Linked DNA regions of Homo sapiens. The protein of the gene in region 1 purifies or fractionates together with the protein of each later gene. This does not show direct contact. Each region holds a gene or a part of one and is shown in the gene's direction. Other genes may lie near its edges. The genes, in order: OFD1, CEP295, MCM10, PLEKHM2, AKAP12, MIB1 and SUPT5H.

Region 1 (4,046 bases):
GCACCTGTAGTCCCAGCTATTTGGGAGGCTGAGGCAGGGGAATCGCTTGAACCCAGGAGGCAGAGGTTACAGTGAGCCAAGATCACGCCACTGCGCTCCAGCCTAGCGACAGAGCAAGACTCCGTCTCAAAAAAAAAAAAATAGTTTTTACACAGTCTCTTTAAATGCATCTGGTTCAGAAAGACATCTGGCCGACAGCCCTTACCAGCTTCACCTAGCATCCCAGTAAAATTTCTGGAAGCCAGAAAAACTATGAGTAGCAGATAGGTCAGGCATCCTAGTGCCAAAATTTGGATAGAACTCTTAGCTAACAAAATAGCTCCTGGTAAGATAAAATTTTTTTAAAAATTGGTGTCTTCTAATTAAGTAACAGAAAACATGTAGGAAGATATTGTGTACTTAACCGTTGTCTGTCCCCTGACTCAGACCTATGGTCTTATCCTACCATATCTATGCTCAGGGGGTGCTAAGCTGTTGAATGGCCTTGGTACTTTTCCTCCTAGATTCTAGTCACCCATTCTTCCCACTGCTAATTTTCCTTTCAGAGATAATGATATCTGTTATGCGTGTCTGTGTGAAGAGACCACCAAACAGGCTTTGTGTGAGGAACAAGGCTGTTTATTCACTTGGGTGCAAGTGGGTTGAGTCCGAAAAGAGAGTCAGTGAAGGGAGATAGGAGAGGGGCAGCTTTATAGGGCTTGAGTAGGCAGTGGAAAGTTACAGTTAAAGGTGGTTATTTATTGTTAGCAGGGGAGGGGGTCCCAAGGTGCATGGTGGAGAGATCTTGGGACTCATTGTCCAGAAGAAGAATGTCACAAGGTCGATTGATCAGTTGGGGCAGGGCAGAACAAGTCATAATGGTGGAATGTCGTAAGGTTGGTCAGTCAGTTAAGGCAGGAGCTGTTTCACTTCTGTGGTTTTTTAGCTGGCTCCTGCAGGCCATCTGGACGTATATATGCAGGTTACGGGGGTTACAATGGCTGAGCTTCGGCTCAGAGGCCTGACAATATCCAGAAAATGATGTGCACAAAATTTGGATGAGGGAAGAAAATTTGGACATCGGCCCTTTGCTTTTTGGAAGTAAAAATTCTTATCTGCAATTGGCAAAAGAATAAGACATATACATCAATGGGGACAGAATTAGGAAGTCCAGAAATACATCCACACAAATATAGTCAATTGATTTTTTTTTTAACAAAGGTGCAAAGGCAATTCAATAGAGGAAAGATAGTCTTTTCAACAAGTGGTGCTGTAACAGTTGGATATTCATATGCGCAAAAATGAACCTAGACACAGATCTTATTTATTATACCTTACACAAAAACTAACTCAAAATGAACCATAGACCTAAATGTAAAATGCAAAACTATAAAACTTCCAGATGAGAACAGTAGAAAGTCTGTGATCTTGGGTTTCGTGATGAGATGTAACACCAAGAGCAAGATACATGAAAGAAAAAAGTAGATCAGTTAGACTTTATTAAAATTAAAAACATCTCTGTGAAAGACACTGTTCTTTTTGTTTTGTTTTTGAGACGGAGTTTCACTCTGCCACCCAGGCTGGAGTGCAGTGGCGTGACCTCGGCTCACTGCAGCCTCTGCCTCCTGGGTTCAAGTGATTCTCCTGTCTCAGCCTCCTGAGTAGCTGGAACTACAGGCGCCTGCCACCACGCCTGGCTAATTTTTTTGTGTTTTCAATAGAGATGGGGTTCACCATGTTGATCAGGCTGGTCTCGATCCCCTGACCTCAGGTGATCGCCTGCCTCAGCCTCCCAGAGTGCTGGGATGACAAGCGTGAGCCACTGTACCCTGCCAAAAGACGCTGTTAAGAGAATGAAAGACCCAGTGTCGAAACCCATAGAGCTTTACGTCATCAAGAGTGAACCTTAATGTTTGCAAATTTAGGTCAGGTGATCCCAGGATGGTATGCAGACTGTGACAAAATCTAATCCCCTTCCTGAAGGGAGTGGGGGTGGGGGAAAAGGTGCTGAGCTAACTACTGTTTTTAGTTCCAAGAAACTAAACATTTCTTAAGTAATTTATGCTTGTGGTTTAAAACAGTTTCAAACTATTCAGAAGGATATAAAGTGAAAGCAAAGTAGCAGTTTCTGCCCATGTTCTCTAATCTCACGCTCCACTGATAACTAGAATTAACAGTTTCACTCCACTGATAACTAGAATTAACAGTTTCTTGTTTATCTTCTAGAATTGTTTGAGGTTAAAACTATGTATTTGTAATTAAAACACAATCAATTGGGATTATATCGTAGATACTGTATGCAATTTGCTTTTTTTAATCCACCAATGTATCTTTCTGTAGCAGTATAGACTAATTATTTTTAAATAATGTATTTAACCCCCTATTGATGGAGATCTGGTTGTTTTATTGTTTGCTTTTTGCCATTACAGGTAACCTATGTGCAGTGTGCACCCTTTGTGCCCTTGTGAAAGTATACCTGTGTAAATTCATAGAAGTGGAATGACTAGATTAAAGGGCACATGCATTTCGAATATATATAAGCACTGACAAATTTCTCTTCCAAGTGAATGAGTATAGCTATATATCCACTCCCTTGCCAACACTTAGCATTATACAAGTTTTAATCTTAGCAGTGTTATAGGGAAAATAATGGTTTCTCTGTTGTATTAATTTGCATTTATGATTTTGTTCATGTTTATTCAGCATCTAAAAATTGTGTTCATCTTTGACAATGTAGTTTTTTCTGCAAACTACCCATGTTTTTCCCCATTTTTCTGATTTTTTTTTTTTAAACTGATTTGTAAGAGTTCTTTGATGTTATGAAAATGTCATCACTTTAGTCTTGGTTATGCCTCCATATTATTGCAACTATTTTTCCCAGTGTGTTATTTTTTTATTTTATGCCATATGTAAGTTTTCAGTTTTTATGTAGTTAGATTGATAAATATTTCTCCTTATTCCTTCCAGGTTCTGTATCATGCTTGGGAAGGCCTTTTCTCAGATTTATTAAAAGATATGACTGGGCACAGTGGCTCATGCTTGTGATCCCAGCACTTTGGGAGGCCCAGGCAGGAGGATTGCTTGAGGCCATGAGTTTGAGACTAGCCTGGGCAACATAGCAAGACCCTGTTTATACAAAAAGTAAAATTAGCTGGGCGTGGTGGGTGGTGGTGTGCACCTCTAGTCCCAGCTACTTGGGAGACTGATGTAGGAGGATTGCTTGAGCCCAGGAGGTCGAGGCCGCAGTGAGCCATGATTACACCACTGCACTCCAGCCTGGGTGACAGAGCAAGACTTTTGTCTCTAAAAAAAAGGAAAGATATATAATGTAAAAAATGATAATGTCCTAAAACTAAGATTGTAAAAACAGTGACTGAGCAGTGGTTGAAAGTTCTGAAACAAAACTGTATGCATATGTTTTTTAGGTTTTCTTATGCATTTTTTAAAAGAATTGGCAGAATATCATCAAGCTAAAGAGAGTTGTAATATGGAAACTCAGACAAGTTCGACATTTAACAGAGATTCTCTGGGTAATTATAGCCTTCTTTCTTAATTTCAGTTCTGCTGTTTTCATTTTGAATGAAGGAAATTATCTGATTTACCATATTGTGTGATTGCTCCTTGAACTGGAGGGATGCAGCCGGCAGGCAACAAGGGAATTCATTTCTGGAATCATCTTGGGGGACCAGGAAGTGCTCTCCAGTGTCATTCCCTAGCCTCATGAATGCCAGGGCTACACTGGCCAAATCATGCAGGGATTCAAAGGCCCATATTCTTCCTTGTTTGTTGAGTTTGACTTCTCTTAACTGGGAGGTTCTTCCTCGTGTCTTGTCTAACTTTACAGCCACCCAGTTAGAAGATTATAAACTACTTGCTTTGCAAAGTACTAGAGAAGTCAGTGACTTATCACTTCATTTTATAGTTGAGGAAACCGAGGTCCTCAGAGGAAGAGCAACTTGGAAACACTCAGTCTGCATCAGAACTAATAGTGGAGTCCAAGTTCTCCCATCCATGATCTGGAGCTTTTTGTACTATCCAGCTGGTCTGCAGTACCATCCTGTCTGTCA
Region 2 (4,046 bases), on another chromosome or scaffold:
TTGCTCCGTCGCCCAGGCTGGAGTACAGTGACACGATCATCGCTCACTGCAGCCTTGACCTCCTCAGTTCAATCCTCTGACCTCAGCTTCCTGAGTAGCTAGGACTACAGGTATAGGCCACCATGCCCAGCTAATTTTTTTTTTTTCCTAGTAGAGATGACGTCTTGCTATGTTGCCCAAGCTAAACTTTAACTTCTTTAGGCTGGGCATAGTGACTCATGCCTGAAATCCCAGCACTTTGGGAGGCTGAGGTGGGCAGATCACTTGAGCCCAGGAGTTTGAGACCCACCTGGCCAACCTGGTGAAACCCTGTCTCTACTAAAAATACAAAAATCAGCTGGGTGTGGTGACACAAATCTGTAGTCCCACCTACCCAGGATGCTAAGGTGGGAGGATTGCTTGAACCCAGGAGGCGGAGGCTGCAATGAGTCAAGATCACACCACTGCACTCCAGCCTGGATGACAGAGTGAGACTCTATCTCAAAAAAAAAAAAAAAAAACAAAAGGCCGGGCCCGGTGGCTCACGCCTGTAATCCCAGCACTTTGGGAGGCTGAGGCGGGTGGATCACGAGGTCAGGAGATAGAGACCATCCTGGCTAACACGGTGAAACCCCGTCTCTACTAAAAATACAAAAAATTAGCTGGGCATGGTGGCGGGCGCCTGTAGTCCCAGCTACTCAGGAGGCTGAGGCAGGAGAATGGTGTGAACCCGGGAGACAGAGCTTGCAGTGAGCCGAGATTGCGCCACTGCACTCCAGCCTGGGCGACAGAGCCAGACTCTGTCTCAAAAAAAAAAAATCCTCCTTAACTTATGACTTTGGTCTCATCTACTTTTAATAAAATATTTTTTTAACCCAACTTACCTCGAAGGAGGCTAATTATTACTAAGCAGGCCAGTTTATAGTCCTAGTTAGTTTTTTCAAAAATACAGCTGGGGAATAATTCCGTGAGCCAGTATTTCTTCTCAGATAAATACTTTCTCAGGCCAGGTGCAGTGGCTCATATCTGTCATCCCAGTACTTTGGGAGGCTTAGGCGGGCGGATCACCTGAGGTCAGGAGTTTGAGACCAGCCTGGCCAACATGGTGAAATCCCATCTCTACTAAAAATACAAAAAGTATCTGGGCGTGGTGGTACGCACCCACAATTCCAGCTACTCAGAAGGCTGAGACAGGAGAATCGCTTGAACCCAAGAGGTGGAGGTTGCAGTCAGCCAAGATTGTGCCACTGCATTCGCCTGGGCGACAAGAGCGAAACTATCTCAAAAAAAAAGAAAAAAAGAAAAAAAGAAAAATTTCTCATCAATAGTCTAGAACAGTATTGTTCAGTAGCACTTTCTGTGATGATGGAAATGTTTTATATCTATGTACAGTATGTACCTGTTAGCCACATGGGCTGTTGAATAAAATAGTGTAACTGAGGAACTAAATTTTAAGTTTTATTTAATTTTAATTAAATTTAAGTAGTCACATAAAGCTAGTAACCACTCTATGGACAGTACAGTTGTAGATGTACTACAGAACTGTAAACAGTCTAAATTCAGGGGCTCCTATGAGTAAGGGAAAGTAAGGAAGAGGAACTGTCTGGGAACTCAGTTGAAGCCACTGTTGCCTAACTAGGAATAGGTAAAGAATCAGGTCAAAACATTTTTTATTTTGAAAACAAGATCATTGTTCATTATCTCTAGTAGAAGTGCTGCTCTTTATATAAGAAAACAACGTGCATTCCTTTTTTTACTTATTCAGTAAATACTTGTCTGTTTATCAGGGACTGTAGAGTAGTCCCTGCTTATCCACAGTGTATATGTTCCAGGACCCCTAGTGGATGCTTAATAGTACCAAACTGTGGATAATATTGATTCCTGTATATACTATGGGTGAATTTATTTTTCCTTCTTTATAATTCCACTGATAGAAGATTTACTTTTACCATAGATCTTAGCAATCAGCGTATAATTTTTTTTCTTTCCTTATTGAGAACTTTCAGCTTTTCACTAAAAGGAAGCACTTTACAGCCTCTCTTTGACATATCAAAATTGCCAGCATTACTACTCTTATGCTGTGGAGCCACTGTGAAGTAAAATAAGGGTTATTTGAACACAAGCACTGTGATGCTGCAACAGGCAAGTTTTTGTAACCAAGATGGCTACTAAGTAACAAATGGCCTGGTCCAGTTTACAGCATGGATATGCTGGACAAAGAGATTATTGATGTTTTCAGCAGTACAGAGTAGGACAGTGCAAGATTTCATCACACTACTTAGAATAGTGCATAATTTAAAACTTATGAATTATTTCTGGAATTTTCTATTTAAGATTTTCTGGCTGCTGTTGACCCTGAGTAATTAAACCACAAAAGCTAAATTGCAGATAGGAGGGGACTAAGGTGCTGGATTTGGCAGGCTAGTTTTGTCCTCATGAAACTCATAGTTACTCAAACATGTTCATATTACTTAGAGTGTGAGTGTGCTTGTATAGTATTAGAGTTTATGTGTTATCTTTCTGCCATTTTCTTCTGTTCCATGCCTGACAAAAAAGACACAGAATGTTGTTCATTGCTTCTAGATAACTATCCCTCTTAATGAGCATGGTTAAGAAGTCAAAGTATTTTAGGAGGCCTTGATATTTAATTTCTTTAGTCATTATTTATACTATTAAATGTGTGAACATAGAATTTGGCTGTACATCATTTGCTACTTCAAGGTAGTTCTTCAGTGGTGATCAGGGTTTCACTGTGCTCTCAGAAAGTAGAAATAGTTAATGTATTTATTCTTTCTTTTCCTTCTGCCTTTTTTTACTTCTATCCCTTTTTCTCTTTTTCCCATTTCCCATCTTTTACTCCCATCCTCAGTCTGTCAGTGATAACAACAGAGATAAAGCATCAACACTTACTTCTTTGAAAATTGGTACCCTTGGTGAAGAAACCTAATTTCTTTTAAATGGAACGTGTGTTATCTTTGCCTTTGTATGAGTTTGTTGTTAATAGATCAATAGTATTTTGTTACCTAGATAATGGAAATAGAAGAGCAGAAGCAAAAGCAATTGGAATTACTTGAACAAATTGAACAGCAGAAATTAAGATTAGAAACTGACTGCTTCAGGGCTCAGCTGGAAGAAGAAAAAAGAAAAAAAACTCAACCGACTGGGGTAGGATGCAGAAAATCTCATCACTACATAAATCATTTGGTAAGGGGGGCAAGAAAATATGAGCACTTGTAGCGTTTAGAAAAGTAAAATGGATGGCTGGGCGCGGTGGCTCATGCCTGTAATCTCAGCACTTTGGGTGGCCGAGACAGGCAGATCACTTCAGGTCAGGAGTTCGAGACCAGCCTGGCCAATGTGGTGAAACCCCATCTCTACTAAAAATACAAAAATTAGCTGGGCATGGTGGCACGTGCCTGTAATCCCAGCTACTCCAGAGGTTGAGGCAGGAGAATCGCTTGAACCTGGGAGGTGGAGGTTGCAGAGTGAGATTCCATCTCAAAAAAATAATAATAATAAAAGTAAAATGCCTTTGTAATTCTTATTTGGTCTTTTTTTGATATAATGTATGTATATATGAATAAATTTGCATCAGTTACGGCTTTCATCTTTCAGTTTCTATAGGATACTAATAGATACGACCATGGTTTGTAGGTAATGCGTATGTTGAGCTTTTGGACCTGCACTGAAGGAGAATGACAGATTAGTTCATTTCTTACTAATGGAAATGCCAGTCATTTTATAAAAAATAAAGCTGTATGGAAGTTTACAATTATAGAACTGTATGTAAAAATACTTCAATACTTACTTCTAAATTTGCTTTTTAATTAGTAACTTTGTCTTTTATTAGGTTGGCATTGCTCCAGCATCATGCCCTGTAATTTCTGATGAAGATAGTCATAGGCAGATGATTCGTAACTATCAACATCAGCTTTTACAACAAAACAGGTATTAGCTAGGGTATAATTTATATGTGATCGTATGTGGCTACATTTTTAGGATTTATTGTTTCATTTATATGAGGATCTAATTTGGATTTCCTTAGAATTATGGCATTTAGAACTGCC
Region 3 (4,046 bases), on another chromosome or scaffold:
TACGTGCCGAACACTATTCTAGACATTGCCATGTGAGGTGTGAACAATTAAATGCTTTCCATTCAAGAGGCTTCCAGGGGTAGCCAGATTTCTGTTGTAAGAGCCACTGGGGATCCGAGAAACGTGCTGATAGTAGATTTCACATCCCAGGGGTTTGAGAACAAAGAGGCTGGGAGATTGAGTCAGCGTAATACAGAGAAGACATGATTTTTGGTGGTGACTGAGGTAAACGGGGTTGTGAGGCACCATGGGATTAGCCCTCGTTCTCTTGTGAAGGGTTCAAAGTGAATAGTATGGGGTCCCCAGGCAGCATTTTCCACCTGTGGCCCCCAGTGGTGTGAGCCAGAGCCTCTTCCCGGGGTGTGCCCTCTTTGGCAGACGGGAACAAGAGATGGTGGAGGCCTCTTTGCTTCCTTGCAGGCATGTGACATTCTCAGAGCACAGGGGGCTGCCTGGCCTCTTCTCTCTTGCACTGTGCAGCCTTGGAGTCTTTGTGGACTAAGCAACTCAAGCTAATCCTTATACAACCTCTGACTGAGCATTAGGCCCCATCATCAGATTCTAGGCCTGAAGTTTGGCTACTGGCTTTTTCCTTCTGGTAAGGGAGTGTAGAGTGGTGGAAAGGATATTGGTTTGCTGATCTAGAGATTCCTTATTAACCCAGCTCCTGAACTGATCTGTTTCTCCATGTGATCCTGAACAAGCCCCTCACCCTCTCATACTCTAGCCCCTGAATTTCAGACAAGGAGAGTAGGTCAGATATCCTTAATATTTTTCCATTGAATACCTCTGATTTTATAAACAAATAGTGCCCAAATAGGGGGGAAAAAAGAGCAAAGAAAATAGATAAATCAAGAAAGAAGAAATCCGATTGGCAAATAAACAAACAATTCTTAACCTCACCAGTAATCCAAGAAATGCAAATCAAAACAGTGAGATGCCTTTTTAAATCGTCCATCAGATTGACAAAAAAATATTTAAGTGACACATCAGATATTGATGAGGTGGTGGGGAGAAGTGGCCCTTGTGTACAGCTCTAGTGAGAGTGATACAGATGATAGCAATTATTTAGGGAGATAGTAAGGGCAACAGAGTCCTCAGCAGAATTTCCCTTTTAGCAAAAAGCAGCCCCCAAGTAATTTCTAACAAGGCCAGCCAGAAAAATCAAGCGGACATAGAAAAGCAAGCTAGTAATTTGCACGGATGAATACCTGCAGCTGTGCCAATAGGAAAAGGCTCCCTGGGGGCCAGGCGTGTTCAACATGGCGGCCCTTTTTCTGTGTCAACCACGTGTACAGTAAAGAAACAGACAATATGGCGCTGGCCAGGTAGAGAACCACCTGCATAATAAAAGATTAGGGTGGGGCAGCCAGGTTTTCCACCCTATGCAAATGGCATACCTAGTCCAGCCAATCTTTTATGTCCTGTGTAAATCAGACATTGCGTCCTCAAGCTCGTCTATGAAACCCCATGCATTTTGCCATGGACGCGGCAACCCATTTCTCTGGGACCTCTCTGCTGCCGAGAGCTCTTCTCTTTCTTTTGCCTATTAAATCTCTGCACTTAACCTCACTCCTTGTGTGTCAGCATCCTTGATTTCCTTTGCATGAGACAACGAACCTCAGGTATTACCCCAGACGAACTATGCCATTTCAAGAGTGCATCCACTTTGAGAACAATTTGGCAGCATCTAGCAAAATTGGAAAACGTGGATACCCAGCAATCCAGCAATTCCATTTCTGATAGATATTCCCAAGAAACACATGTGCGAGAAGACGGATACACGATTACAGCGTATTTAGTAGTGGGGAAAAATTAGAAATAGCCCATATTGTCCTTTATTGGAAAATGGATTAATGAGGTGTGATACAGTCTTATTATAGGATACAATATAGCAACGAAAAGAAAGAAACTAGAACTATATGGGGTTTTTTGTTTGTTTTTGAGATGGAGTCTCGCCCTGTCACCCAGGCTGGAGTGCAGTGGTGCGATCTCGGCTCACTGCAACCTCCACCTCCCAGGTTCCATCAATTCTTCTGCCTCAGCCTCCTGAATAGCTGGGATTACAGGCACGGGCCACCACGCCCAGCTAATTTTTGTATTATTAGTAGAGACGGGGTTTCACTTTCTTGGCCAGGCTGGTCTTGAGCTCCTGATGTCAGGTGATCCTCCTGCCTTGGCCTCCCCAAGTGCTGGGATTACAGGCGTGAGCCACCACGCCTGGCTAGAACTATATGTTTTGATTTGGGTTAATCTTACAAGCAATGTTGAATGAACCTGGAATGCAGAGTAATGCAGTGTGGAATATTTATGTAAATATTTTTAAAACCATCTAATATAGATTGACTATGACTGCCTATATATTTATGTAAAAGCATAAGAATGGACTGGAATGATGCCTCAAAATTATGAAAGTGATTACAATGGGAAGTGGGGGCAGTGGTCAGGAGTTGGGATAAGATTTGGCATGACAGACTTCATCTGGAAGGTGTTATTTAATGTTAAAGGCAAGAAGCAAACAACAAAATGTTAATGATGGCTAATTCTGGGTGATGGGATCTTAGTATTTTTTATATAGTTTGTATCTTTTTTTTTTTAAATCTCAAATAATTTGAAGGTCAGGAATTATATACATCTAAAGCCTAAATCTATGTTTGGTGTTTTAAAATTATTCCCTTGTTGGTTGAATTTCATGGAAGTCGGTGTGCGGGAAGCTGTCTCATTGATTGGAGTAGAATGCTTGAGGACATTTGGCCCCGTGGCTGGCCCACTCTACTCACTAAGCAGTATTGGCTCCTTCTTAGCCCAGTGTCCCCTAAGAAGCACCTGGGGACAAGAAAGATGGAGACAAGGAGAACAAAGACCAGGCAAAATGGTGCATCTGTAGGTTTTTGTTTTTTTTGTTTGTTTGTTTGTTTGTTTTTTTAGTTTCAGCTTTCATTTTAGATTCAGGCTTGTTACAGAGATGTATATATAGTGTGATGCTGAGGTTTGGAGTATGGTTGAACCCATCACCCAGGTAATGAGCATTGTACCCATTAGGTAGTTTCTCTTACCCCCATGGGGTCATTTAAATTGCCTAAAGTTGAATGTTTGGAATTAGCCGTGCTTATTCTCTGTCCTTTCTCTTCTTTTCCCCTAGAGGAGGAAGACAATCTGTCTCTGCTGACCGCACTGCTGGAAGAAAATGAGTCAGCCTTGGATTGTAATTCAGAAGAAAATAACTTCTTGACGCGGGAAAATGGCGAGCCCGACGCATTTGATGAGCTCTTTGATGCCGACGGCGACGGTGAATCTTATACAGAAGAGGCTGATGATGGAGAAACAGGAGAGACAAGAGACGAAAAGGAAAATCTGGCCACTCTCTTTGGAGATATGGAGGACTTAACAGATGAAGAAGAAGTTCCCGCATCACAGTCAACTGAAAATAGGGTCCTCCCTGCTCCTGCCCCCAGGCGAGAGAAAACGAATGAAGAGTTGCAAGGTGCCCTAACTACTTGCCTTCCTTATTTCTTTCGGATAAGTTGGATGAAGACCACCAATCTGATAGTTGTCATCAAAATAGCTGCTGATTCAAGGGTAGAGATAAATGACTTTGTAAAAAAAGAAAAAAAGAAAGAAAATTATATGAGTTGGTAGATGAAATGTTTGGGCCAGCATTTCAGCACAAACTATAGACTCTATCAGTGTCAGCCAGCTGCACTTGATCCTGTACGGAATGGCTCTGAAACTTTTCATATTTCTTATGGAATAGTAGCACTTTGGGATGTATGTGGATGTGGAGCCAGAGACAAGGTTGCAAAGCTGCCACATATCTATTTGAGCAGAGCATTCCTGAACAGAAGCTTTGACACATGTTCTTTTCTCATTCCTGGCATCTCATACATGTTTAAGCTATAGTAAAATTCAATGGTTAGCTGTTTCTTCTAATACAGAAGCCAGCATTTATTATATTAGTTATGATATCCAATTTATGAAGTAAATATAATTTTTTTTTTTTTCCGAGACAGATTCTTGCTGTGTCACCCAGGCTGGAGTACAGTGGT
Region 4 (4,550 bases), on another chromosome or scaffold:
GGTAGGAGACTGACACCTCTAAGTGCAGGGGCTTTATGAGATGGTGGATTTGAGGAGGGTGTGTGGGAAGAGAGTTGTTACGGTGGGTTTCAGGGGCTGAGGGAGTTGAGGCCCTTGGGATACGTGGGGCTGAAGAAGAGGGATAAGGATAAGGAGTGGGAATGGGGCATTGGGGCTGAAGGTGAGGAGGGTGTGTTTTGGGGGTGGGGAGGAACACCAGGGACCTCAAATGTAGGACTGGGCCTTGAGGGTGAGGCACTGAGGAGGGGAGGCTGTGGAGGGCCAGGGGGCCCAGGGAGGGTCTAGGGCTGGGGACTGGAGTCTAGGCTGACCCGGTGGGGGTGCTGGGTCCTCCAGGCTGCGAAAGCCAGGGGGCCTGGGTCTGCACATTGAGGGGGTGGCTGGGCTAAGGAAGGGGAGGAAGATAAGTGGGGCTTGCAGGCTAAGAGGGTCTTGGGGTCCCTGGCCAGAGTTAGTGGGGTGCACTGGGGTCTCCAAGGAGGGGTCTGTGGACTAAAGAGGGCCGGCGGGAGGGGGCCCAGGGTCTGTGGGTGTCTCGAGTCTCTGAGGAGGGCCGGGGTCTCAGGGTCTGTGGGGGTCTCTGGCCTGTGGGGTCGGAGTCTCCAGAGTCCTTGGGGCCTGTGGGAGTCTCTGGGGTTTTGTGGGGGGATCCTGTGGGCTGAGGAGGGCTGTGGGGAGGGTCTCAGGGTCTCTGGGGAGGGCCAGTGCCTCGGGGTCTTTGGGGGTCTCTGAGGAGGGCTGGGGGCCCAGGGTCTGTGGGGGTCCCCAGCAGGTGGGGTTGGGGTCTCCGGAGTCCCTGGAGTCTGAGGGTGTCTCTGAGGTCCCAGGGGGGAGTCTATGGCCTGAGGGCTGAGGGGGAGGGTCTCCAGGGTCTCTGAGGAGGGCCGGTGTCCCGGGCAGGCGGGGTCGGGGTCTCCGGAGTTCCTGGGGTCTGAGGGTGTCTCTGGGGTCCCTGAGGGAATCTGTGGGCTGACGAGGCCTGGGGGAGGGTCTCCGAGGAGGGCCGGGGTCCCAGGGTCTGTGGGGGTCTCTGGCAGGCGGGGTCGGGGTGTCCGGAGTCCCTGGGGTCTGAGGGTGTCTCTGGGGTCCCTGAAGGAATCTGTGGGCTGAGGAGGGCTTGGGGAGGGTCTCTGAGGAGCCCCGAGGTCCCCGGCAGGCGGGGTCGAGGTCTCTGGCGTCCCTGGGGTCTGAGGGTGTCTCTGGGGTGCCGGGGAGAGTCTGTGACTTGAGGAGGGCTGGGGGCGGGTCTCGGGGTCTCTGGGGAGGGCCGCGGCCAAGGGTCTGTGCGGGTCTCCGGGTCCCCGGAGTCCCCAGGCGCAGGCGGGCCCTGGCGCCGCCCCGCCTGACATCAGTTCCTGCCGCCGCCGCCGCCGCGGCGCACAGCCCGCGGCCTCCTTCCCCGCCGGCCGCGCTCCGGAGCCTCCGGGCCGCGGTGGAGCGAGGGCCCAGGCGAGGCGAGGGCCGGGCGGCGGGCGCCGGGCCCCGCGGCCGGCACGACGGAGCCCCCGTACGGCCGGCGGCAGCGGTTGGCGGCGGCCCCCGGCCCCCGGCGCGGGAAGCGGCGGCGGGGCGGCGGCGGCGGTGGCGGTGGCGGTGGCGGCGACGGTGGCAGCGCCATGGAGCCGGGGGAGGTGAAGGACCGGATCCTGGAGAACATCTCGCTGTCGGTGAAGAAGGTGAGCGCGGCCTCCCTCCCGGCCGGGGCCCCTTCCTCGCCGCGCCCCCCACGCCCTCCGGCGGCGCTCTCCCGGGCCGGGGCCCCCCGCCCTTCCCCTCCGCGACCCGGGGGGCGACGAGCGGCCGGGAGCCCCGGGCCGGTAGAGGGGAAGCGGCGCCGCTCACGTGAGCGCCGCGGCCTCGGAGCTATTTTTAAAGAACAAAGTTGAGGTCAGCATCCTCGGAGCTTCCCCAAACCTGGCCCGGGGCCCTGCCCTCCCGGAGAGGGGTCAGCGACCCTCCGGTCCCCCACTGGGGCAGCGGCGCCCCCGGGAGCTCCTGAAGGAACCCCATGCAGCCTCCTGTGGAATCCGCTGCATCCCCGGGTCCCCCCGCCAGGCTGGCGTCGCCCAGGGTCTGGCAGTCAGGGTGGAGGCCAGTGATAAGCAACTTCACTTTCCCATGGCCTGGGTCCCGGCGACATTGCCTCTGCTCCTGGGAAGTCCCCTGAATAATCTTGCTCAAGGATGGTAGCTTTGAAGAGGTTCACTAGGGGCTTTGATTATAAGAACCTGAAGTACATGGGGATTGCATTTTGGATGCTGATCCGGGGAACCGGGTGACACCACAGACACCTTGCTGTGGGGCTTGCCGCAGTAAACATCACTGTCCCAATTCCAGGTAGAAATGAGTACATACCTGTCAAGGGCATGTATTTGTGATGAAGTTGGCATATCCGCAAAAGGGTCCGTGCTAGAAGGTAGAATCCATATTCTGACGTTTTTGGGCTGGATATAAAAATAATAATAATAAATTTAAAAGAATCCATATTCACTGAAAACCTAAATGGCCAAATCAGAATGGATTTTTCTCTCTCTCTCCCTCTCTGTGTGTGTGTTTGTGTAATTTGAATTCCTGGCTCACCAGATAGTCTCAGAAACTGAAAAAAAAAAAAAAAAAAAGAAAGAAAGAAAGAAAAAAGAGAAAGAAAATGGCTTGGGTGAGGGACTCAGCAGCTTATTTTACTTGAAGAAGCAAAATGGATAGAATTAATTAGATCAACCATCATATTTAAATAATTGTCTGTTTTCCCACTGAGATTCCTCAAAAGCAACACAGGCAAGCTATTTTACCTTTCATAAAGATAAATGTGACTTAAAAAGAAAATAGATTCTCGAATTGCCCTTACTGAAAACATTCCTCTAAAAGCACAGCTAAAGTAACATTGCAGAGATCCAACAAGAGTTTTACGTAGTTTTACTGAGCTTTGCTAATGTAATGGGGTATGGTTTTTGCTTACTCAAGGAGGGCAGGATGAGCAAATACTTTGTTGAGAAGCAGTACATCTTTCCTAATGGAAGAGAAAGGAACACAGGTGACCTTTCTAATCTAATCTGGGCTGATTGTGGCTTTAGGTAGGCCCGGCGTTTGTCTTTGGATTTCAAACAAATGAATGGAGAAAGTCTGTGATGGAGAGGCAGTAGACATGGGGCACGCTGTCACATGTATAAGCATGAGTCTTTTGAAGGCAGAGATTCACTTTGTAAGTCAGGCTGTCACTTATGAGTTAGGTGTGTTTGTTGAGGTGCATATAATTGTAGGTGTTTGGACAAGGACACTTATTGAGCTGGAATGCACCCCAGAAAATGTCACACTAGAAACTGCAAACCCATCCCTGGGTGTATCACAACCAAAGCCATGGGCAGCATCATTGTTAGGAGCATGGATTCTGGAGTCCAGCTGCCTGATTGAATCCCCGCCCTGCCAAATTAATAACCCTGTAACCTTGGTCAGGCTTATTAACCTCTCCATGCCCAGTTTCTTCATCTGTAAAGCAGGGATAAAATTAGGGATGTTGTGGAGTGTTTTTTTGTTGTTGTTGTTGTTGTTGTTTGTTTTTGAGACAGAGTCTTGCTCTGTTGCCTGGGCTGGAGGGCAGTGGTGTGATCTCGGCTCACTACAACCTCCACCTCCCAGGTTCAAGCGATTCTTCTGCCTCGGCCTCTCGAGTAGCTGGGATTACAGGTGTGCGCCACCACACCCGGCTAAATTTTTTTTTTTTTTTTTTGAGACGGAGTCTCGCTCTGTCGCCCAGGTTAGAATGCAGTGGCCTGATCTCCGCTCAGTGCAAGCTCCGCCTCATGGGTTCACACCATTCTCCTGCCTCAGCCTCCCAAGTAGCTGGGACTATAAGCGCCGGCCACCACGCCCGGCTAATTTTTTTGTATTTTTAGTAGAGACGGGGTTTCACCATGTTAACCAGGGATGGTCTCGATCTCCTCACCTTGTGATCTGCCCGCTTCGGCCTCCCAAAGTGCTGGGATTACAGGCGTGAGCCACGGCGCCCAGCGTCTAATTTTTGTATTTTTAGTGGAGATGGGGTTTCCCCATGTTGGCCAGGCTGGTCTTGAACTCCTGACCTCAAGTGATCTGCCTGCCTTGGCCCCCCGAAGTGCTGGGATTACAGGCATGAGCCACCGTGCCCGACTACTTTTTGTATTTTTTGTAGAGATGGGATTTCGCCCATATTGGTCAGGCTGTGTTATGAAGATTTTGTTTGTTTGTTTTTTGTTTTTTGTTTTTTTTGAGATGGAGTCTTGCTCTGTCACCCAGGCTGGAGTGCAGTGGCGTGATCTCAGCTCGCTGCAAGCTCCGTCTCTCAGGTTCACGCCATTCTCCTGCCTCAGCCTCCCGAGTAGCTGGGACTACAGGTTACAGGCGCCCGCCACTATGCCCGGCTAATTTTTTTGTATTTTTAGTAGAGACGGGGTTTCACCGTGTTAGCCAGGATGGTCTCGATCTCCTGACCTCATGATCCGCTCACCTCGGCCTCCCAAAGTGCTGGGATTACAGGCATGGTGAAGTTTTAATAA
Region 5 (4,046 bases), on another chromosome or scaffold:
TGAAAAAATTTTTTTCTTTTTAAAAGCCAGTCAAGTTTAGCAGTGTAGGGTTGTATACCGACTTTAGTAACACTGATGTTAATTTCTGATAACCCACTACCATCGGACCAGCCTAAAAATGAATTCTTAACTCCATTTTACAGAGAATGGGGAAGATATGAGGGAGGTAAGAAATGTGCTCAAGGTCGTGAAAGTAACTTCCTTAAGGCGGAAGCAAATGTATATGAAACACACTTGTGAAATGGGTACATAATGCATAGGATACATGTGTTCTCTGTCAGGAGCCTGTAGTGGCCTGCTGTAGAACTGTGATATGCTTGGCTCCGTCCCGTTCAATGTTTTTGATGAATGGCTTAGCTGAGGACATTAATATGTTATTTACATTTGGAGATGATATAAACAGAGGAGTTAAAGCTCCAGCAGTGTGGCCTGTTGGCCTAGATGATCTTAAAAGATTTATGAACCCTGGCAAGCAAGGTTATTAACATGCTTGAAGCCTAAGAATCTATGAGTTTTAGGGTTCAATGTATTTTCACTTCTACAGTGATAAAGTGAGTAAAAAGGAAACCGTGTCTGTTCTCCCAATTTCCCTCTAAGAGGATAAAACCAAACAACAACAATGCCATAGAGGTAACCATTATTAAAGATTTGGTACATATTGTTCCAGACTTTAAAAAAAATGCTTACACAAACATTGACTCCTTTTCTCTCTCCCTTTTCCTCTTCCTCTCCCTCTTTGTCAGTGGGTTATTTTTGTTTAGTTTGGTTTTAAACACATAAAAGAATCATTCTCAGCAACTTGCTTCTTTTCCCCCTTAAGCCAGGGACATCTTCACACATGAGTGTGTCTAAATCTACCTCATAGCTTTTGATGTTGTCTATTGCATGAACATTTCATAATTTAACTACTCCCCTCTACTGATAGACATTTAAGGGTTTTTTTTTTTTTTGCTATTATGAAGTATTTATTACTTATTTATTTTTCCTTTGTAGAGACTGGGTTTCAGTTTGTTGCCCAGGCTGGTCTCAAACTCCTGGCTTAAAGCCATCCTCCTGCCTCAGCCTCCCAAAGTGCTGGAATTATAGGCATGAGGCACCACGCCCAACCCTATTATAAGTTATTATGTGTTGCACCTCATAAATATGTAATGCCATATCTATTAGAATGGCATGGTGTAGCTAATGGGTTTGCGTATTTAAAATTCTATCCCTATTTCCAAATTGCCTTCCAGGGATATTGTTTACTGATTTGTACTCTGGTTTTTATTTTTTTTGTTTGACATTTTTAAAGATTTACTTTCAAAACACTTTCTATTAGAATGAAGGAGAAAACACAATGAAGAGGTTTCTTTACAAGTTTTGTCGTGGGATTTAAAATTCCTTCCAGATAATCTTTAAGTCTGATGATTTGATCATTTGTGGGTGTGTCCTGGTTATATTGGCTTCTGGTTCCTTCCCACGAAGGCCACTTACAGGTTTGCTTCTTGGTCATACTGCCCGGGGTGGGACGAATTGCCCCTTTGGAGCCTCGTCTACTGTGTGAACTGCAGGAGTGCTGGGCCACTTGCACCCGGTCGTCCAATGAGGATGTAGATCTGGGAGTATCACTTCTGCAGTGAAAAGGGTTGCTTTGGTTGGCTTACCTCCTCTGCCCCTGGCATCCTGACAGCTGTCAAGGGCTCATCATTTCACAACTTCATTAAACAGCCTGGTACTCCTGTTTCTTACTCTGCAAAGGAGGTCCCTAGCACGTTGTGGACTCCTGTGGAGAAGGAAGTGGATGGAGAAGTCTCCTAGTTTTTCTGTGGTGCCTTGGCTACCACTTGGACATTCTTGGTTGTTGTTCTTACAGAAATGAGAGGAAAACACTGTTGCTGGAAACATTTGAGGTTTTTAGGGTCTTTTTTTTTTTTAACAGCTTGTTTAGTTGTAATGTGGTAATACTTCATGGGAATAAACTCTGGCTGACCCACTCAAAGGATATAAGCTTGAAAACATTTAGGGTTTTGATTTGTTCAAAGGAGGCATTTGTGCTTTTTGAAGCACAAATCCAGTGGGAAAATAGGTTTTCTGGTGCTTACCATGTTTAAGTGTAAGGAGCGTGTCTTTCAAGTCTAGTTCTCATCTCAAAAGAAATAACTATTTATAAAACTAAGTTCAGGGTGGAGGGATAAAGCTATGCGAGGAAGCTTCGGAGTGGAAAAAGTGAAATATACATTTCCTCCTTCTTTCTTGTTTGGTAACAGTTAAGTCCCAGTATTACTTTCCTCCCTGAAATGGGTGGTCCTCGAATCCCATCTGGCTCCAATGAATCCCATCTGGTTCCACCGCCTCCTGTCCCATGTGCCACTATGTTGTGTCTGCATCTTTCAGGGTCTCTCTGGGCAGAGCTGTGTGTAAATCCTGTCTTCTGTGGCCATTTGAGTTGCAGACAGGAGAGACTGATTGAAGTTAAGCAAGGTGCGTGTTTATTAATAAAGAAATGTACCCACAATGTATGAAACCATCAGGTCATAAAATAACACGTGTTCCCCATTATTTTTTAAGTGAATGCTTGTGCCTGTATATATACACACGTAGAAAACACAGAAAAGACTTAAATGAATGTAGGTTTGATTTCCTCTATTTGAGGTGACTTTAACTTATTGATAACTCTCAGAAGTCCGTGAATTTTTAACAACGGTATGACTTATTTAGACGGTTTGGGGATGGAAGAAAAAACAAAAACACTTTTGATTTGGAGTGAAATAAAGGGAATTATCCATCTTTAACAACACGTGGGATTTGCAAAAGTGTGGACATGTCTGAATGTGACAATCTGACTAGGAATGAAGTCCCATTTTGTGCGGATGTTGGTGCCTCATAGGCTCTGAAAGCTCACCTGAGACATCACCCTTGAGGTCAAAGCTTGGGTACCCTGGCGGGACGCAAGCTATTCACATAGTAAAATAGACTCAAAACTCAGGTTCAGTAACGTCACTGTCATAAATCGTTTTCTACCGAAGTTAATAATGTATCTACGGCCTTTCTCAAGTAGGGACAGTTACCCTGTGGTTACTGAAAATTAGTATCTCATAATGTATTCATTATCATACTTAGGATGTAAGGATGTGTAGCATTTGACCTCAGTTTTTAAGGGTCCTTCTTTTTATCATCTAATGTACTTTGCTATGTGTGTGTAACATCTCTTTTTTTTTTCTTTTTTTTTTTTTAAGAGACGGAGTCTCCCTCTGTTGCCCAGGCTGGAGTGCGTGATCTCAGCTCGCTGCAACCTCCGCCTCCCAGGTTCAAGTGATTCTCCTGCCTCAGCTTCCCTAGTAGCTGGGATTATAGGCGCACACCACCACACTTGGCTAATTTTTTGCATTTTTAGTAGAGACGGGGTTTCACCATGTTAGCCAGGATGGTCTCGATCTCCTGCCCTCATGATCTGCCTGCCTCGGCCTCCCAAAGTGCTGGGATTAAAGGCATGAGCCACTGCGCCTGGTGTAACATCTCTTTTTTAAATGATGTTTTTATTTGGAGACGAGGGTCTCTCTATGTTGTCCAGGCTGGCCTCAAACTTTTGGGCTCAAGCAATCCTCCTGCCTCAGTCTCCTAAGTGCTGGGACTACAGCGCACGTCACAGTGCCCGGCTCAGTAACATTTCTAAAAGAGTAGACGGAAATTTGTGCCTGTGTGCTATAGTCTTCATGTTTAAAGAGACTCAGTTTGGCTCCAACTAAAGATACCTTGGATTGGGCAATTCACAGAGGATTATAAGAATTTTTTCAATAATTTTAGGTACTTGGTAGAACCCTAAACTCTATAGAACTTCAGAGTTCTGGTTCCTAAATAAGAGGCACAATTGACCGAAGTTTATTGCATTGAAATTGAGGTATTAAGATGGCTTTTTTATGTTCCCTGTTTAGTTTGCCATATCATGAAACTGTGTATGTCAACAGTTTCTAGGTTTAAGATTCACTGGGTTACCATGTAGCCCACGATAATATGTGATTCCTGCTTTCCTCCCCCAACTTTTCTTCCTGTTACTAATCAAATCTAAG
Region 6 (4,046 bases), on another chromosome or scaffold:
GGGTGTTAATCTGTAAGGAGAGGTGATTTATACCTGCTGACGTTTTTTGTCTGAAATGGGAGACAAGTTCATCTGTTGAGAGTGGTGGGTAGAGAAAGAGTAATTGAGAAGAGTGATAAGGACTTGGGGACCTGCAGAAGGGTGTTCCAATCATGTTAGAAGCCCGTTTCAGGTTGAACACTACAGATTTTTAGTGCCGCCAGATACAGGAGTAGAAGGTAGATGGTAGATGGTTGGATTGAACTTGGGTTAGGAATTCTTTTTTTTTTTTTTTTTTTTTTTTTGAGGCAGGGTCTTGCTCTGTTGCCCAGGCTGGAATTCAGTGGCGTGATCATGGCTCATTGCAGTCTCAACCTTCAGGGCCCACCTCAGCCTCCCGAGTAGCTGGGACTACAGGTGTGAGCTGCCATGCCTGGCTAATTTTTTGTAGAAATGCCCAGGTTGGTCTCAAACTTCTGGTCTCAAGCAATCTTCCTGCTCCCACCTCCCAAAGTCCTGGGATTACCGGTGTGAGCCACCATGCCTAGCAGGAATTCTTTATGTAGGTGGATGAATATATTCCTGGGATTAGCAAACATTTTCTATATTGGGCACAGATAATAGTGGCTTATTGGCTTTTGCCACAACTATCTAACTCTCATTGCAGAATGAAAGCAGCCATAGATAATACATAAATGAATGGGTGTGGCTGTGTTCCAATAAAACTTAATTTACAAAAACAGGTGGCTCCAATGTGTAATATCCTGGGATATCATTTTTTCTAGGCTTTGTCCACATGGCTTAGGGGAGCATAGGGCTCTGCCCCATGATGTACAGTCCCTTTCCTCAGTGTTGGAGATGAAGCTGGGTCTGGTGTTTGCACTTTCATATTCCTGTAGCTTCTCAGAATCCTGTGGACAGTGACTGGGGAGACAAACCATGCAGGAAATATGTCTAGTAAAAAAGAATAAAACAAACAAAAAACAAGTGGCAAACTGAATTTGGCAACTGTAGTATATGCTGTAGGCCAGGTTGTATATGACTTTACTGAGAATAGCATCTGTTCAACTATGAAATGAATGAAATTTAAATTATTCATGTCTGTACATGACTGCTAATGAATAAAAACTTACTGCTAAGTCAATTGATTAATGTAAAAAGTAGTCAGCTTGAAAAAATGGTAGACTGAGATTGCTAAATTTTAATTTACAATTGTTTTACCTTTGGCTAACTAGCCACTTTGCTGCCCTTTGAAAACGCTTAGATTAATGTTTCTCACCTGTGACTGCACAAGATGTTCATCTGTGGAGCTTTGAAAAATTACTCATGCCTCACTCTCACCTCTAGAGATTTAGTATGGTGAACAGCCTGGACATCAGATTTTTTTTTCTCTTTTTTTTCCTCTGTACAACAGATTTTAAAAGATCTCCCCAGCAGGTTCTAATGAGCAGCCAAGTTTGAAAGCCACCGACTTTCAATTCATTGTTATGGTGTAGGTTTGGTATGGAATTTCAGGGTATGACAATTAAGGCCATTTTAAACTTATAAAATTTGGGGGGCAGCTTTATCACTTCACTGGTTTTTGTCATTAGTTATATTTGAGGCTACTTCTTTTCTTTTCTTTTTGCTTTGTAAAGCTTCAGCATGTGCCAGGAGTGGTGGCTTATGCCTGTAATCCCAACACCTTGAGAGGCTCATGTGGGAGGATCACTTGAGCACAGGAGTTCAAGACCAGCATGGGCAACATACTGAGACCCCCATCTCTACAAAAAAAGAACTTTGCCGGGCAAGGTGGCTCACGCCTGTAATCCCAGCACTGTGGGAGGCTGAGGTGGGCAGATCACGAGGTCAGGAGTCTGAGACCAGCCTGGCCAACGTGGTGAAACCCCGTCTCTACTAAAAATACAAAAATTAGCTGGGCATGGTGGTGGGTGCCTGTAATCCCAGTTACTTGGGAGGCTGAGGCAGGAGAATCGCTTGAAACCGGAAAGTGGAGGTTGCAGTGAGCTGAGATCGCGCTATTGTACTCCAGCCTGAGTGAAAGAGCGAAACTTGGTCTCAAAAAAAAGAAAAAAAAATTCCAGCATGCTTATTTTGTTTTCCAACTAGATTTGAGTATGTCTTTCCTTACTATAATGTGGCCAGTGTTTCTTGCCTGTATTTTTGTTTTTTATATTTTTGGAGATAGAGTCTCGCTCTGTCACCCTGGCTGGAGTGCAGTGGCATGATCATAGCTCACTGGAGCCTTGAACTCCTGGGCTCAAGCCATTCTTCTGCCTCAGCCTCCTGAGTACCTAGGACTATAGGTGCACACCGCCGTGCCCGGCTAATTTTTAAAATTTTTTGTAGGGACAAGGTCTCTATATGTTGCCCAGGTTGGTGTTGAACTCCTGGCCTCTGCTGATCCTCCCGCCTCAGCCTCCCAAAGTGCTAGGGTTACAGACATGAGCCAGCATGCCCAGCCTTTGCCTATATTTTTGTAGTTATCACAGAAAGTGCTCTTTTATTGGTATTTGTTGGATGTGGTCTCTGCTTCTGTTTGCTTAGCATTTGGTGTAAGTATTACTATTAGATGGGATAATTAATTGAAGAACTAATGAAAATTTCTTTAAACTTAAAGGATTCTGAAGGTGATACCCCTCTTCATGATGCAATAAGTAAGAAACGTGATGATATCCTAGCAGTTCTTTTGGAAGCTGGAGCAGATGTTACCATCACAAACAATAATGGATTTAATGCTCTGCATCATGCTGCACTAAGGGGAAATCCCAGGTATGTCACCCCTTACTATTTTAGGTGCAATTCAAAAATATTTTCCTACTGTTGATTCTCTTTTTCTGATACTGATGAAGAAATAATTTTGGCTATTTTAGTATTTTAAATCATTTTAAAGTTTTGTGAATATTATGCCTTTAGTTTTATATGATGATTATTTGGTTGTTAATCTAATACAAATATTATGAAATGATTATTTAAGTTTATATTAAATGTGGTTGTAAAATATCAGGAATACTAGTTTCTTTCTAAAGATTTAATTAAAATGCATTTTATTTTGAGATTTATGTTTCTTCAAAATAATTATCTGGGTGTCCTCTAATTTCATGTTGCCATTTGCACGATAATTATTTTTTAAAACTTAAGACTAAATAAATACTAAGTTACCTAATTCCTTATTAATAATGTAATTAGTTATATAAACTTCTAGTATAGCTATCCCCTCATCCATTGTTACAGCAATAGTATTCTACTGAAAAAAGTATTTGCTGGTTGACATTTGAGAAAGACTCCTTTTGGAGAATCACATTCTTTATGAAGGATCTGCGGTGTCCCACAGAATGGGAAAATGCTTAGCTTTGCTTAATTTAGAGATTTCCATTAACTCACTTTTTGGAACAACTTTACCCTAAGCATTTTAGGAAATTCTGCATTGGATGTCTTCTGTTTATGTTTGAGTCAAACCTGTATACCTGGACTAAGAAAAATCTTCACTTTGATTTTTATTTTGATAATTTTATCTATTCTGAACACTTATTCTTTGGTTCCTTATTGTATTTTTATATCATGTTTCCTTTAGCTTCTTAGGATCACCACTAGAGGGTGACCACAGGAAACAAAAGGATTTTATTGCTACTGCTTATTGGTAACTGTAACAGTGGGTATATATTGTAGGACAAAATGAATGATCATATTTTAGATCACATCTTGATTTTTTTTCCAAATTGCAAATATTTGAACACTTCAGATTTTGGCATTGTGAAGAAGACAGTAGTATTATATTTCCCTGCCCTTCAAACAGAAGATTATGATAGCACTTTCCACATGCCAGCCTCTGCAAAGTGCTTCACATGCATCATCTCACTTAATCCTTTCAACAGCTTTTTGGGGCAGGTGTTAATATCCTCATTTTACACGTGAAGAATATGAGGCTTATAGAGATGAATTTAATTATTCAAGAACACGTAGCTGATTACTGAAGCAGCTGTAACTTGAGCAAGGTCTAGGTGACTTTAGAATCATAACTGTTAAACCACTTTACATCACCTTTTCTGTATTATGGTCTGTCTGTG
Region 7 (4,046 bases), on another chromosome or scaffold:
TTCTTGAGACCACAGGTGTTTTTCAGATTTCAGATTTTTTCAGCTTTTGGAATATTTGCATTATACTTACCGGTTGAGCATCCCAAATCTGAAAATCCAAGAGTGAGCATTTCCTTCGAGCATCATGTTGGTGCTCACAGGGTTTCCTATTTTTGAGCATTTTGGGTTTTTGGATTTGGAATGCTGAGACTGCAGTGGAGGAGGGGAAGAGGTCAGGTATTTTGAAGGCAGAGCTGATGGAATTTGCCAACGGGTCGGGTGTGGGTGTAAGAGAAACAAAGGAGTCAAGAGTGGCTCCCAGGTTGTGTGCCTGAGCAGAGGGAAGAATGGAGTGGGAGGCGGCAGGTTTGGGGGAATCAGCGGTTTGGCTGCGGTCGTCCTGGATTTGAGGGACCTTTAGACATCCAGGTGGAGATACCAAGCAGGCAGTGGCTACTCAGTGCCAGAGTTGAGGGGACAGACAAGCTAGCGTGGGACTTTTGGGAGTGGTCAGCAGCCTGGTTTCTTCCCCACCATCCTGCGTCCCTTCTCCTTCCTAGCATCTCCTGACCCTTCTTGTGTCTGGGGTCAGGGAGGAGAGTGGGGCCCTGCTGACCTTCTGCTCGCCCTGCTCAGGTGGACTACGTGGAGCCCAGCCAGAACACCATCTCCCTGAAGATGATCCCACGCATCGACTACGATCGCATCAAGGCCCGCATGAGCTTGGTACTCAGGGGAATCTGTGGCCTGGGGGGGAGGGAGTGTGCTCGATCCCACTGGTGGCCAAGCCCCCTCCCTCACCCTTCCCACCCATGCCCCTTTCCTCCATAGAAAGACTGGTTTGCCAAAAGGAAGAAGTTTAAGCGGCCTCCACAGAGGCTGTTTGATGCTGAGAAGATCAGGTGCGTGTCCTTGGGGACTGGCTGGGCTGGGTCCCCAGGGCCGGTGTGTAGAATGTGCCTTTTGCAGGTTCCTCCCCAGGGGTGGCCCCGCCACAGGTTTAGCCTGTGAATTGGTTAGCTTGGCAGTATAGCCTCAGGCAAGTCACTTCACATCCCTGTGCCTCAGTTTCTTCTGCTATAAAGATTGATGAGGCTGGGCGCAGCGGGAGGGAGCACTTTGGAAGGCTAAGGCAGGAGGCTTGCTTGAGGCAAGGAGTTCGAGACCAGCCTGGGCAACATAATGAGATCCCATCTTTTAAAATAATAATAATAATAAAAAGAAAAAAGTTAAAAAAATATTTAAAAAGATTGATGAGGCTGGGCGTGATGGCTCACACCTATAATCCCAGCGCTTTGGGAGGCCGAGGCGGGCGGATCACTTGAGGTCAGGAGTTCAAGACCAGCCTGGCCAACATGGTGAAACCTTGTCTCTACTAAAAATACAAAAATTAGCCAAGGGTTGTGGTCAGCTCCTGTAATCCAAGCTACTTGGGAGGCTGAGGCAGGAGAATCGCTTAAACCCACGAGGCAGAAATTGCAGTGAGCCGAGATCGTGCCACTGCACTCCAGCCTGGGTGACAGAGCGAGACTCCGTCTCAAAAAAAAAGAAAACAACCTCTGCTTCCTCAGATTATAGATTATAGTGAGAATTAAATAAATTAGTATGCATATGTACTCAGAATGCCCTTGGCACGTAGTAAGTGTGATCCATGGTGTGATATATTGAAATGGGATTCATGGACTATGTCAGGCTTTAGAAAGTCTCCTTTCCTGATCTGCTTATGCCCACTTGAGATGGGGGGGTATGGAGTGCCTTTCCCTCAGGATGCCCCCCAGACTCCCTAGCTGGGTAGAGAATTGGAGCAGCCCAGGAATTTCAACATCCCAGGGCCAACTGGGGGCTCCGGCAGGGAGGGCAGGAGAGGAGGACATGGAGAAACGAGAGGTGCCAGTGACACTCTTCCCTCTGGTCCTGTTCTAGAACTAATTGTGTGTGATTCAGCCAGTCAGGTTTTCCTTCAGATAAAGGAAGAGCTGTGGAATGCACCTTTGAGTCTGCACCCAAGGGCCTTGCTAATACTTCACCTGCCTGAGTTCGGACCCATTTATACCACTGGTTTCGACTCACCTGAACCTCTCTTTGCAAAGAACAAACCCTAGTGCTCCCTTACCCCCCAGCAAGCCAGCTGACCAAGTACCCCAGCATGCCCAGCAGAGCATGCTGGCCCCTCTCCCAGATTCACCATGGGAGAAGGCGATTGCATGAGCGCAGGAGGAACTTGACCTGCTCCTCCATGAAGGAGGCTCCTTCCCCACCCCGGAGACTCGGAACAGGCACTAAGCGGCCGCCACTCCACATTTGGGGCCGGGAGCTGCAGGCTTGGGAGTCCCACCTGCCTGCTTTTGAATCCTGTCAAGACTGTGGCTTGGCACCCTTGGGCATGTGATGTGACCTTCCTGAGCCTGCATTCCCTCACCTGGAAATGATGAGCAGTTACTGATGCCACAGATTTGGGGAAGAGCCTGTGAGGTCATGAGTGTGCAGGCCAGGCTGAGCGCTCTGCGAATATTCACTGGTATCATTGTCTGAAACTGTTATTTTGTTCAGCTAATGTTTACTGCATACTTTCTGTGTACTGGGCACTATTCTTGGTGAAATTTAGTGAATGTTACATCCCTGACCTTCTGGAGCTGACATGCTAGTTAGGGGGACAGGTCAAACACTAGATTGTCAGATGGTGATCGGTGCTCAAAGATAAATCAGGGAATGGGTGGAGGAGTGCAGGGAGGTGGGAGGCGGGCCTTTGGGGTTTGTGAGAAGTCACTGCTGCCAAGAGGGTGTGTGCTGGGATGGGATGGGTCAGTCTGCCTGTGGTCCTCTCCTTCTGTTGCCAGCTGAGAAGACTGAGGTACAGCAAGATTTTCTTCTTGACTCTCCCTTCTAATCTTCTCTCCCCCATCAAATTCCAGGTCCCTGGGGGGTGATGTTGCCTCTGATGGTGACTTCCTCATCTTTGAGGGGAACCGTTACAGCCGGAAGGGCTTTCTGTTCAAGAGCTTCGCCATGTCTGCTGTGGTGAGGGTCCCAGAGGGGTGTTGGTAATGGGGGTGGTGTGAGTGTTCTCCTGCAGGTGATGCCCTGGGCTGTGGGTTATCTGGTTCTGTCCCACTCCTCAAGTTAGGAGTGTTCCCTAGGAGAATTATTCCCCTAGGACCCACTCAGCCCACTCAGCTGGGCTGTTGCACTGACCTCGGTCCATTTCCTTCTCTTCCCCTCACCGCTGGGGGCTTAGATCACGGAGGGTGTGAAGCCAACACTCTCTGAGCTGGAAAAGTTTGAGGACCAGCCAGAGGGCATTGACCTGGAGGTGGTGACTGAGAGCACAGGTATTTGATCCCCCTCTATAACCTGGGCCAAGGAGCAGGGGCGGCCCATGGTGGCAACCCCCGAGTCAGCCCTACGACTGCCCCTGCAGGGAAGGAGCGGGAGCACAACTTCCAACCTGGGGACAACGTGGAGGTCTGTGAGGGTGAGCTCATCAACCTGCAGGGCAAGATCCTCAGCGTGGATGGCAACAAGATCACCATCATGCCCAAGCATGAGGACCTCAAGGTGGGTGCCCGGTGTTCTCGGGCAGGGGTTGGAGTGTTCAGGCACATCTGACTGTATGTGGCTGTCGAGGCGGTGGTGTGCCTGGTGACACCTGGTTTCCAGGAGGGTAAGTTGAGGCCCTTCTAGCATTCTCAGGTGCCTGAGAGGCTCTGTCTGAGTGCAGCTCAGGGTCGGTGGGCAGCAGGCCTGCCTGGTGGTGTCTGTCTCTGGAGAGTGACTTGGTCTATCTTTTGTTTCTGAAAAGCAAGATATCTGGGTAGTACTGGGTTGAGAGTGTGATTAACCAAGGAGTAATCTGAGGCTTGACTTTGTTTGCTTAGAGCGGGGTGTGTGTTTGTCTGTGTCTGGTGTATGTCTGAGGGGTTGTGCAGGCCCAGTGTGATGTGTGGGGTGAGGCTGTCTCCGGGTGGGGCTGAGGAGCTGTCCAGTCGGGGGTCCTGTGTCTGAGGGGCAGGCTCTCTGTGTGGGTATAGGTAGGCATCGTGTGTCTTGAGGGCGGGCTGGGGTAAAGG

The links.
Region 2: the proteins of OFD1 (region 1) and CEP295 purify together in Homo sapiens (affinity purification with mass spectrometry; one large-scale study listed by BioGRID and IntAct). This does not show direct contact.
Region 3: the proteins of OFD1 (region 1) and MCM10 purify together in Homo sapiens (affinity purification with mass spectrometry, with the first as the bait; one large-scale study listed by BioGRID). This does not show direct contact.
Region 4: the proteins of OFD1 (region 1) and PLEKHM2 purify together in Homo sapiens (affinity purification with mass spectrometry; one large-scale study listed by BioGRID and IntAct). This does not show direct contact.
Region 5: the proteins of OFD1 (region 1) and AKAP12 purify together in Homo sapiens (affinity purification with mass spectrometry; one large-scale study listed by BioGRID and IntAct). This does not show direct contact.
Region 6: the proteins of OFD1 (region 1) and MIB1 purify together in Homo sapiens (affinity purification with mass spectrometry; one large-scale study listed by BioGRID and IntAct). This does not show direct contact.
Region 7: the proteins of OFD1 (region 1) and SUPT5H purify together in Homo sapiens (affinity purification with mass spectrometry; one large-scale study listed by BioGRID and IntAct). This does not show direct contact.

The regions. Positions count from the first base shown.
Region 1 is NC_000023.11:13,741,011-13,745,056, forward strand, and holds part of OFD1 (centriole and centriolar satellite protein OFD1), read left to right. Parts: intron 1-3,404; coding exon 3,405-3,509; intron 3,510-4,046. UniProt on the Homo sapiens protein: Component of the centrioles controlling mother and daughter centrioles length. Recruits to the centriole IFT88 and centriole distal appendage-specific proteins including CEP164. Involved in the biogenesis of the cilium, a centriole-associated function.
Region 2 is NC_000011.10:93,692,491-93,696,536, forward strand, and holds part of CEP295 (centrosomal protein of 295 kDa), read left to right. Parts: intron 1-2,991; exon of another isoform or gene 2,992-3,006; coding exon 3,007-3,144; coding exon of another isoform or gene 3,145-3,183; intron 3,184-3,829; coding exon 3,830-3,927; intron 3,928-4,046. UniProt on the Homo sapiens protein: Centriole-enriched microtubule-binding protein involved in centriole biogenesis.
Region 3 is NC_000010.11:13,167,780-13,171,825, forward strand, and holds part of MCM10 (protein MCM10 homolog), read left to right. Parts: intron 1-3,142; coding exon 3,143-3,484; intron 3,485-4,046. UniProt on the Homo sapiens protein: Acts as a replication initiation factor that brings together the MCM2-7 helicase and the DNA polymerase alpha/primase complex in order to initiate DNA replication. Additionally, plays a role in preventing DNA damage during replication.
Region 4 is NC_000001.11:15,682,922-15,687,471, forward strand, and holds the start of PLEKHM2 (pleckstrin homology domain-containing family M member 2), read left to right. Parts: upstream 1-1,398; 5' UTR 1,399-1,637; coding exon 1,638-1,697; intron 1,698-4,550. UniProt on the Homo sapiens protein: Plays a role in lysosomes movement and localization at the cell periphery acting as an effector of ARL8B.
Region 5 is NC_000006.12:151,298,821-151,302,866, forward strand, and holds part of AKAP12 (A-kinase anchor protein 12), read left to right. Parts: intron 1-21; exon of another isoform or gene 22-113; intron 114-4,046. UniProt on the Homo sapiens protein: Anchoring protein that mediates the subcellular compartmentation of protein kinase A (PKA) and protein kinase C (PKC).
Region 6 is NC_000018.10:21,816,896-21,820,941, forward strand, and holds part of MIB1 (E3 ubiquitin-protein ligase MIB1), read left to right. Parts: intron 1-728; exon of another isoform or gene 729-933; intron 934-2,599; coding exon 2,600-2,751; intron 2,752-4,046. UniProt on the Homo sapiens protein: E3 ubiquitin-protein ligase that mediates ubiquitination of Delta receptors, which act as ligands of Notch proteins.
Region 7 is NC_000019.10:39,465,865-39,469,910, forward strand, and holds part of SUPT5H (transcription elongation factor SPT5), read left to right. Parts: intron 1-615; coding exon 616-705; intron 706-810; coding exon 811-881; intron 882-2,357; exon of another isoform or gene 2,358-2,429; intron 2,430-2,891; coding exon 2,892-2,997; intron 2,998-3,214; coding exon 3,215-3,308; intron 3,309-3,397; coding exon 3,398-3,534; intron 3,535-4,046. UniProt on the Homo sapiens protein: Component of the DRB sensitivity-inducing factor complex (DSIF complex), which regulates mRNA processing and transcription elongation by RNA polymerase II.